2 linked regions of the Homo sapiens genome follow. The protein of the gene in region 1 purifies or fractionates together with the protein of each later gene. This does not show direct contact. Each region holds a gene or a part of one and is shown in the gene's direction. Other genes may lie near its edges. The genes, in order: C1orf159 and SMO.

What was found.
Region 2: the proteins of C1orf159 (region 1) and SMO fractionate together in Homo sapiens (co-fractionation; one large-scale study listed by BioGRID). This does not show direct contact.

Annotation. Positions count from the first base shown.
Region 1 is NC_000001.11:1,113,138-1,117,388, reverse strand, and holds the start of C1orf159 (uncharacterized protein C1orf159 isoform 2 precursor), read left to right. Parts: upstream 1-1,299; 5' UTR 1,300-1,329; intron 1,330-2,313; exon of another isoform or gene 2,314-2,367; intron 2,368-4,251.
Region 2 is NC_000007.14:129,198,371-129,202,177, forward strand, and holds part of SMO (protein smoothened precursor), read left to right. Parts: intron 1-3,807. UniProt on the Homo sapiens protein: G protein-coupled receptor which associates with the patched protein (PTCH) to transduce hedgehog protein signaling. Binding of sonic hedgehog (SHH) to its receptor patched prevents inhibition of smoothened (SMO) by patched.

The DNA of each region.
Region 1 (4,251 bases):
TTCCCCAGCTGTCCCCAATACTGTTTACAAAACATCCTCACGCTGTTAAGATGGGGGCTTTATTTCCATTGAAATCTCTGGCATTTAAACTTGGGATGGAACCCGGAGGCGGCGTCCATCAAGGAGGAACAACCCCAAGGCGCATGCAGGACGGGCCTGGGAGCTCCCGGGAGCAAGGGAGCTGGGGGGTCTGGGGGCCTGGGAGGTTGGGGGGTCTGGGGGGTTGGGGGGTCTGAGGGGTTGGGGGTATATGGGGGGTTGGGGGATCTGGGGGTTTTGGGGGGTCTGAGGGGTTGGAAGGGTCTGCGGAGGTTGGGGGGGGCCGCGACACCTGCAGCGCCCCCCCACCCTGCGCGCTGGCCCAGCTAGGAGAGGGCCCGGGGACACCGACAGGATTGAAGCCTTTGATGAGCGGACGGACGTCCCCAGTTCCTTCGGGGAGCTCCTTTAAACATGTTTGCCGAAAGCTGCGGGCGCCGCGGGACGCACAGAGCTGTCTTTTCTCCGAGGGTGGCTCAGAGGCAGAGCCCCGGAAAAACCCACGCGCCCGGCCTGTGGGGCAGCGACGCCGCCCAGACCCCGGGGCCGCCGAGACTCACGGGGGAGCGTCCTGAGACCGCAGAGCCCTGACCCGTCCGAGAGGCGAAGCCCCGGGAGCCCTCTGGGTCCGAGCCGTCCCAGTCCCGCACCCAAGGCAGGGTCTCTCCCGCCGCGCTCCGACACCGGCCGCCGAGGTCCCAGCACTGGCGCCGGCCGCGGACCTGGGGCGCATTTGGCGGCGGCTCGCGAGGCGCTCGGGGCGCTCCGTGGGTCTGGAGGGCGCTGGCCCCGCGCGCCCGCGGCCAAACCTGGTGCAGCCGCGCCGCCTTCTCCGATGAAGCCGAAGCCGCCCCGGCCGCCCCCAAACGCTCCGCCTCCGCCTCCGCCTAAACCGGCGGAACGCTAAGGACGCCGACGCTTGTGCGGTCGCCCGGGAGACCCCGACGACGCCCCGCCCCGTCTCCCGGCAACGCCAAGCAGCCGGCGCGCGAGGAATCCGGGGGAATGTAGTCCCTCCGTGTCAGGGACCCGAGACATGCGCTGGTTCTTCTAGGACTACATTTCCCAGGGCGCTTCGCGCCCCGCCCCGGCGCCCCACCCACGGCCGCGCGCGATGGTACCACCAGGCGAGGGCGGCTCTCGCGCGGGCCGCCGGGAGTTGTAGTTTTCTTTGGGAGCTGCGGGGCCTGGCGCCGGGGCCGGGGCGGAAGAAAGACTACAAGTCCCAGGGGGCGCGGCGCCACCGCCTGAGGGCGGGGTGTACGAAAGAGAAACCCGGAGGGCGCCGGGGTGAGTGAGGGGCTGGGGGCAGGCGTGAGGGTAGCGGGTTGGGGCGCTGGGGTCCGTCTGGGCGGCCGGGTCGGCGCAGGGAGTGCGAGAGGCAGACAAAGGTCGGCGGCCCTGGCCCGGCCCGAGGGACGTTCCCTGCGCGTCCCCCATTGTGCGGCGCGCGGAGGAGCCGCCAGCGCCTGGGCCCGCGTCCTCGTCGCCGCCTCCCAACGAGCCTGGCCGCGGTCCTATGGGGGAAAGGCGCCCGGGCTGAGCGGGACGCCTGGGGAGGGGAAGGGGCGTCTGAGGAGGGCAGGGGGACCCCGGGGAGGGGTGGGGAGGGGGTCCCTAAGGAGGGGAGGGGGTTCCCGGAGCGGGGAGGGGGGGTCCCTGGGGAGGGGAAAGGTTCCCGGGGCAGGGAAGGGGGTCCCTGGGGAGGGGAGGGGGTCCCTGGGGAGGGAGGGGGGTCCCTGGGGAGGGGAAGGGTTCCCGGGGCAGGGAAGGGGGTCCCTGGGGAGGGGAGGGGGTCTCTGGGGGAGAGGGGGCACCTGGGGAGGGGAGGGGGTTCTCGGGGCAGGGAGGGGGTCCCTGGGGAGGGGATGGGACGGGCGCCCGGGGGAAGAAAGGGGGCGCGTTCGCCTCGCCTTCCCGGCAGCCGGGAGTGGGGGCACCGGCGCGGTCCCCGGTGTCCTAGAAGTCGGCCACGATTCAGGTCTTTTTCCCGCGAGGCTTTAGGATTTGTTTTTGTCCGTTTGTCACCTGGAGTAGCCGAGGGCTAGTCGGGGTGCAGTTTTTCGGGAGCGCGTGTTCCGGTGGCAGCGAGTCGATGATTGAGTTTGGGTGTAATTTAAGCCCAGGTGTTCGGGGGCATTTCTTACCGCGTTTCAAAGCAAACGCGGCTTCTTCCCCGGGAACTATTTTGTGGCTGAATTCTTAGCCGCCTCGTCCTGTTAAATTTCAGGATGTCAAACTTGGCCTCCTTTTTTTGGTTTTCATTTTTCTTAGTATTACCAGGGTGTGCAGAGAAGGCAGAGCTGCGTCTTCCTCTTTTATTTTTCCGTAAGTTACTGGGGTACAGGTGGTGTTTGGTTACTTGGTTACATGGGTAAGCTCTTTAGTGGTGATTTGTGAGATTTTGGTGCTCCCATCACCCGAGCAGTACGCACTGCACCCTATTTGTAGCTTTTTATCCTTGTCCCCCTCCCACCCTTCCCTCCGAGTCCCCAAAGTCCAGTGTATCGTTCTTAGGCGTCTTCCTGTTTCCTGATGGCTTAACCTGGGAAACCCTCGCAGAGGGAGCCGGTTTTGAGCCCCAGGGTAGGGGCGGCCGCCTGGGATGTTCAGTGATGCGCCTGATTACTCAGGTTTATGTTCCCCGTTTGCATTCAGCCAGGATCCGTCATGGCCACGTTGTTTTTAACATACATGTTTATGAATTATACAGAAACGTTGTTTTCCTGACACACATCCCGCCCCCAGTACTCCTCCTAAAAGCCAGTCAGGCAGGTGTTTCCACACGCAGTCACCTCAGCCCTGGGGTGCACAGGCAGCATCCCGGGAACCCCTGAGATACCTCCCAGCTGCTCCCTGCCTTGCGGCTGCTCTCCACCTGAGCTTTGACTTACTGGGTAGCTCATTTAAAGAACAGCTAGCGCTGTGGGTGCTGGGGTGGGAGATCGCTTGAGACCAGTCTGGGCAACATAGGGAGACCTCGTCTCTATAAAAAATAAAAAATATTATCCAGGCATGGGGGCAAGCACCTGTGGCCCGTTACAGTAGGTAGCTAGTCAGACATGAGCAGGGCAGAAGAGGGGCCCCCCTCTACCAGGGACATTTGGCTGGTAAGAGAAGGCGGCCCTGGCTGTGCGCGGTGGCTCACACCTGTAATCCCAGCACTTTGCAAGGCCGTGGGGGGAGGGGGGCGGATCAGAAGGCCAGGAGTTTGAGATCAGCCTGGCGAATATGGTGAAACCCCGTCTCTGATAAAAATACAAAAATTAGCCGGGCATGGTGGCGGGCGCCTGTGGTCCCAGCTACTCAGGAGGCTGAGGCAGGAGAATCGCTTGAACTCGGGAGGCGGAGGTTGCAGTGAGCCGAGATTGCGCCACTGCACTGCAGCCTGGGTGACAGAGCGAGACTCCATCTCAAAAAAAAAAAAAAAAAAAAAGGCCTCGAGGGAGCGTGCGCACAACTCCAGTAAACTCTGTGCATGCTCCCTCCCAAGTGCCCGCAGCCGCTGTGCGGGTGGACGGCCCACCCCGAGGGAAGAATCGGGAGACGTAACACCCCGGAAGCCTCCAGCGTGGAAGACCCTAAGTCAAAGGTCAAACTGCGCACTTGATCTCTCAGGTCTCCTGCCTGGCCTTCTTCCAAGGGCGCTTTACTTCCTTTCATTCCTGCTCTAAAGCTTCTTCATAAACTGTTGCTCCTGCTCTAAGGTCTCTTCTGCCTCCTACCCGTCCATCAAACTCTTCTGAGGAGGGAAAAATTGAGGTTCACTGCTGCTAACATGCTTTGGTGTCAGAAGTGGGACATATTCTGCCACTAACAGTCCCAGCTACTCGAGGGACTGAGGCAGGAGGATCGCTTCAGCCCCGGAGGTGGAGACTGCAGTGAGCCGAGATCGCAACGATGCACTCCAGCCTGTTTCACAAAGAAAAGAAAGAGCCACCTCTTCTCACCACTCTGGCTGAGGGTTGCGTGTGCCGAGGTGGAGTGTGGAGCTCAGGTGAGCCTTCAGAGCTCTATTACTGGCAGAATGTATCTGAGTTTCAGCACCAAAGTATGTCAGCAGCGGCCTCGATTCTCGCTGCCTCAGAAGAAAGAATTTGATGGAAGGACATGAGGCTGAAGGAGAGACTGAGGCAAGTTTTTTTTTTTTTTTTGAGATGGAGTCTGTCTCTGTCGCCCAGGCTGGAGTGCAGTGGCACAATCTCGGCTCAC
Region 2 (3,807 bases), on another chromosome or scaffold:
ACCAACACTGGTTTTTGTGTCCTTTTGGAAATATCCAACATCTGTCCAGATGTAGATGTGCTCTCAGTCTCTCCTCTACCGCCCAACCAGTACCATGCTCTATAGACTGCTCTCCACTCAACTGAGTCCATGTAACATGACAACATTGGACATCATTCCATTTCAATGCACATCCTGTCATGCACCCCAGAAGGAGATTTTGGTTAACAATGGACCACATGTGATGGTGTTCCCTTAAGATTATAATACCACATTTTTACTGTAGCCTTTCAATGTTTAGATATGTTTAGATACACTGATACTCACCGTTGTGTTACAGTTGCCTGCAGTATTCAGTATAGCAACATGCTGTACAGGTTTGCAGCCTAGAAGCCATAGGTTATACTGTATCAGCTAGGTGTGCAGTAGGCTATACCATCCAGGTTTGTGTAAGTACACTCTGATGTTCACACAAAGATGACATTGCCTGATGACACATTTCACAGAAGATATCCTCATTGTTAAGCAACATGTGACTATATCTCAACCCTGAATAGTGTTCTATTATAATGGTGTACATTATTTTACTTGGTTGGTCTCCTATTGATGGATATGGATTCAAGCTGTTTCTACTTTTTTGCTATTGCAAAACAGTGCTGCAATGAATAATCTATATTATCTTTGTGAACATGTGAAGTAGAAGTACTAGTATAAAATTTTGGTAGATAATGCCAAAGTGATCTCCACAAGTGTTTACTAATTTTTATTCCTACCAACAAATATAAAAGTGCCAGTTTATCCCTACACTCTTTATAGTACGGTATTTTCTTTTCTTTTTTTTTTTTTTTTTGAGATAGAGTTTTGTTCTGTCACCCAGACTGGAGTGCAATGGCGATCTCGGCTCACTGCAACATCCGCCTCCTGGATTCAAGCAATTCTCCTGCCTCAGCCTCCCAAGAAGCTGGGATTACAGGCGCCCACCACCACACCTAGCTAATGTTTGTAGTTTTTTAGTAGAGACGGGTTTTCACCATGTTGGCCAGGCTTGTGTAGAACTCCTGACCTCAGGTGGTCCACCTGCCTCGGCCTCCCAAACTGTTGGGATTACAGGCGTGAGCCACCACCATGCTCAGCCTTCTTTATGTTTTTAAAGGCCATTAAATGGCCTTGAGTCCAGGAGTTCAAGACCAGCCTGAGCAACATGGTGAAACCTTGTCTCTACAGAAAAATACAAAAATTCACCAGGTGTGGTGGTGTGAGCCTGTAGTCTTTGCTACTCAGGAGGTTGAGGTGGGAGGATTAACTGAACCTGGGGAGCTGAAGGCTGCAGTGAGCCGTGATTATGCCACTGTACTCCAGCCTGGGCAACAGTGTGAGACCCTATCTCAAAAAATAAAAAAATAAAAAAAACATAAAGAGATGTTCGACCTCACTCTTAATAATACAAATGTGGAATAAACTACAACGAAATATTCTTTTTTTAAACTTTTATACTTTTTATCACAGTGATAAAGATCAAAACATTTGAAAATGTGATCTGTTATTTGTCTTTCGCCTGTGTGTCTATAGAATTATGCAATTTTTACTGATTTGGAGGAGCTTTGTGCATATAAGGAAATTAGCTCTTGTGATAAGTATTGAAAATACATTTTTTCAGTATCTTACTTTTCTTATGATTTTTGTATCGATTTTTCTGAAGTCTTTTGTTTAAATCTTTTATTTCATGATGTGTAGGCTTTGTGTCATTTCAGAAGGCCTTCTCCACTCCAAGGTTTAAAAAATCATTTCCTGGCCAGGCGTGGTGGCTCACGCCGTAATCCCACTTTGGGAGACCGAGGCGGGTGGATCACGAGGTCAGGAGATCGAGACCATCCTGGCTAACACGGTGAACCCCCGTCTCTACTAAAAATACAAAAAAAAAATTAGCCGGGTGTGGTGGCGGGCGCCTGTAATCCCAGCTACTCGGGAGGCTGAGGCAGGAGAATGGCGTGAACCCAGGAGGCGGAGCTCGCAGTGAGCCGAGATCACATTACTGCACTCCAGCCTGGGCGACAGAGCAAGACTCCATCTCAAAAAAAAAAATCATTTCCCATCTTTTCTTCTAAAACTTTAATTTTTAGAAAAACAATGTAGTTATTTTTTTATCCATCTGGACTTTTATGTAAGAAATGGGGTAAAGCTCCACCTTATTTTTTCCCCAGATAATTTCTTAGTTGTCCTTGAAGATGTATTTAATAATCTCTCTTTTTCCTGGGGAGTTTTATTTTTAAGGTATGAAACAATATTCACAATGAGGGAAAAAAAGGAAAACAAATTAGACATTTTTAAAACCTGATTGTTACCACAGATATAAAAAGATTGAGAAAAATTACAGTTTTTTTTTTGTTGTTGTTTGTTTGTTTGTTTTAATGAGTCTTGCTGTATCACCCAGGCTGGAGTACACTGTCGTGATCTTGACTCACTGCAACCTCCACCTCCTGTGTTCAAGCAATTCTTCTGCCTCAGCCTCCCAAGTAGCTGGGACTACAGGCGTGGACCACCACGCCTGGTTAATTTTTATATTTTTTAGTAGAGACAGGGTTTCACCATGTTGGCCAGGCTGGTCTCAAACTCCCGACCTCAAGTGATCTGCCTGCCTCAGCCTCTCAAAGTGCTGGGATTACAGGCATGAGCTACCGCACCTGGCTGACACAACCTTTATTTTTTTTATTTTTCGAGACGGGGCCTTGCTCTGTCGCCTAGGCTGGAGTGCAGTGGTGCCATCTCCGCTTACTGCAACCTCTGCCTCCTGGGTTCAAGTGATTCTCCTGCCTCAGCCTCCTGAGTAGCTGGGATTACAGGCATGTGCCACCACATCCAGCTAATTTTTGTATTTTTAGTAGAGACAGGGTTTCACCATGTTGGCCAGGCTGGTCTCGGACTCCTGACCTTGTGATCCACCCGCCTCGGCCTCCCAAGTTCTGGGATTACAGGTTTGAGCCACCATGCCCAGCCGACACAACCTTTTTATTAACTGCCTGATGTTTCTCTAAAGCATTTTACTCCAGAGAGGTCCCCCCATTTTAAATATATTGTGCAATAAAAGTAAACATCCAGTAAAATTGACTTTTTCTTGTACAGTTCTAAGTTTAGACAAACACATAGACTTATGTAACCAGCCACCACATTGAATTCAAGATAGAGAATCGTCCTTTAACCCCCATATATTCTCTCATGCTACTATTTTGTAGGCAAATCCTGCCCTCACCCCAATCCCTGGCACCCACTGCTCTGTTTTCTGCAAGTACCTATGTACTCAGAATTTCTGGTGACTGTTTTTGGGTTTTTTGTTTTTTATTTTTTTGTTTTTGAGGCAGAGTCTCATTCTTTTGCCCAGGCTGGAGTGCAGTGGCGCCATCTCAGCCCACCGCAACCTCCACCTCCTAGGTTCAAGCAATTCTGTTGCCTCAGCCTCCCGAGTAGCTGGGATTACAGGCATGTACCACCACGACCGGCTAATTTTTGTATTTTTAGTAGAGACGGGGTTTCACCTTGTTGGCCAGGCTGGTCTTGAACTCCTAGCCTCAGGTGATCTGCCCGCCTTTGCCTCCCAAAGTGCTGGGATTACAGGTGTGAGCCACTGCGCCTGGCCAACTGGTGACTGAATTGAGTCAAGTGGGAACTGTTGCCTGAGGACATTGCTTCTTAACTGGCAGGAACTTGCTCTGCACCCTGGAATATACTCTGAAGGCTGGGAGCAGTCAGAGGCCTCAGACAAATAATCATAAGAGTTAACATTTCCTGAGCGCTTACTACATGACAGGTACTGTGCCAAGGGCATTTAAAGCA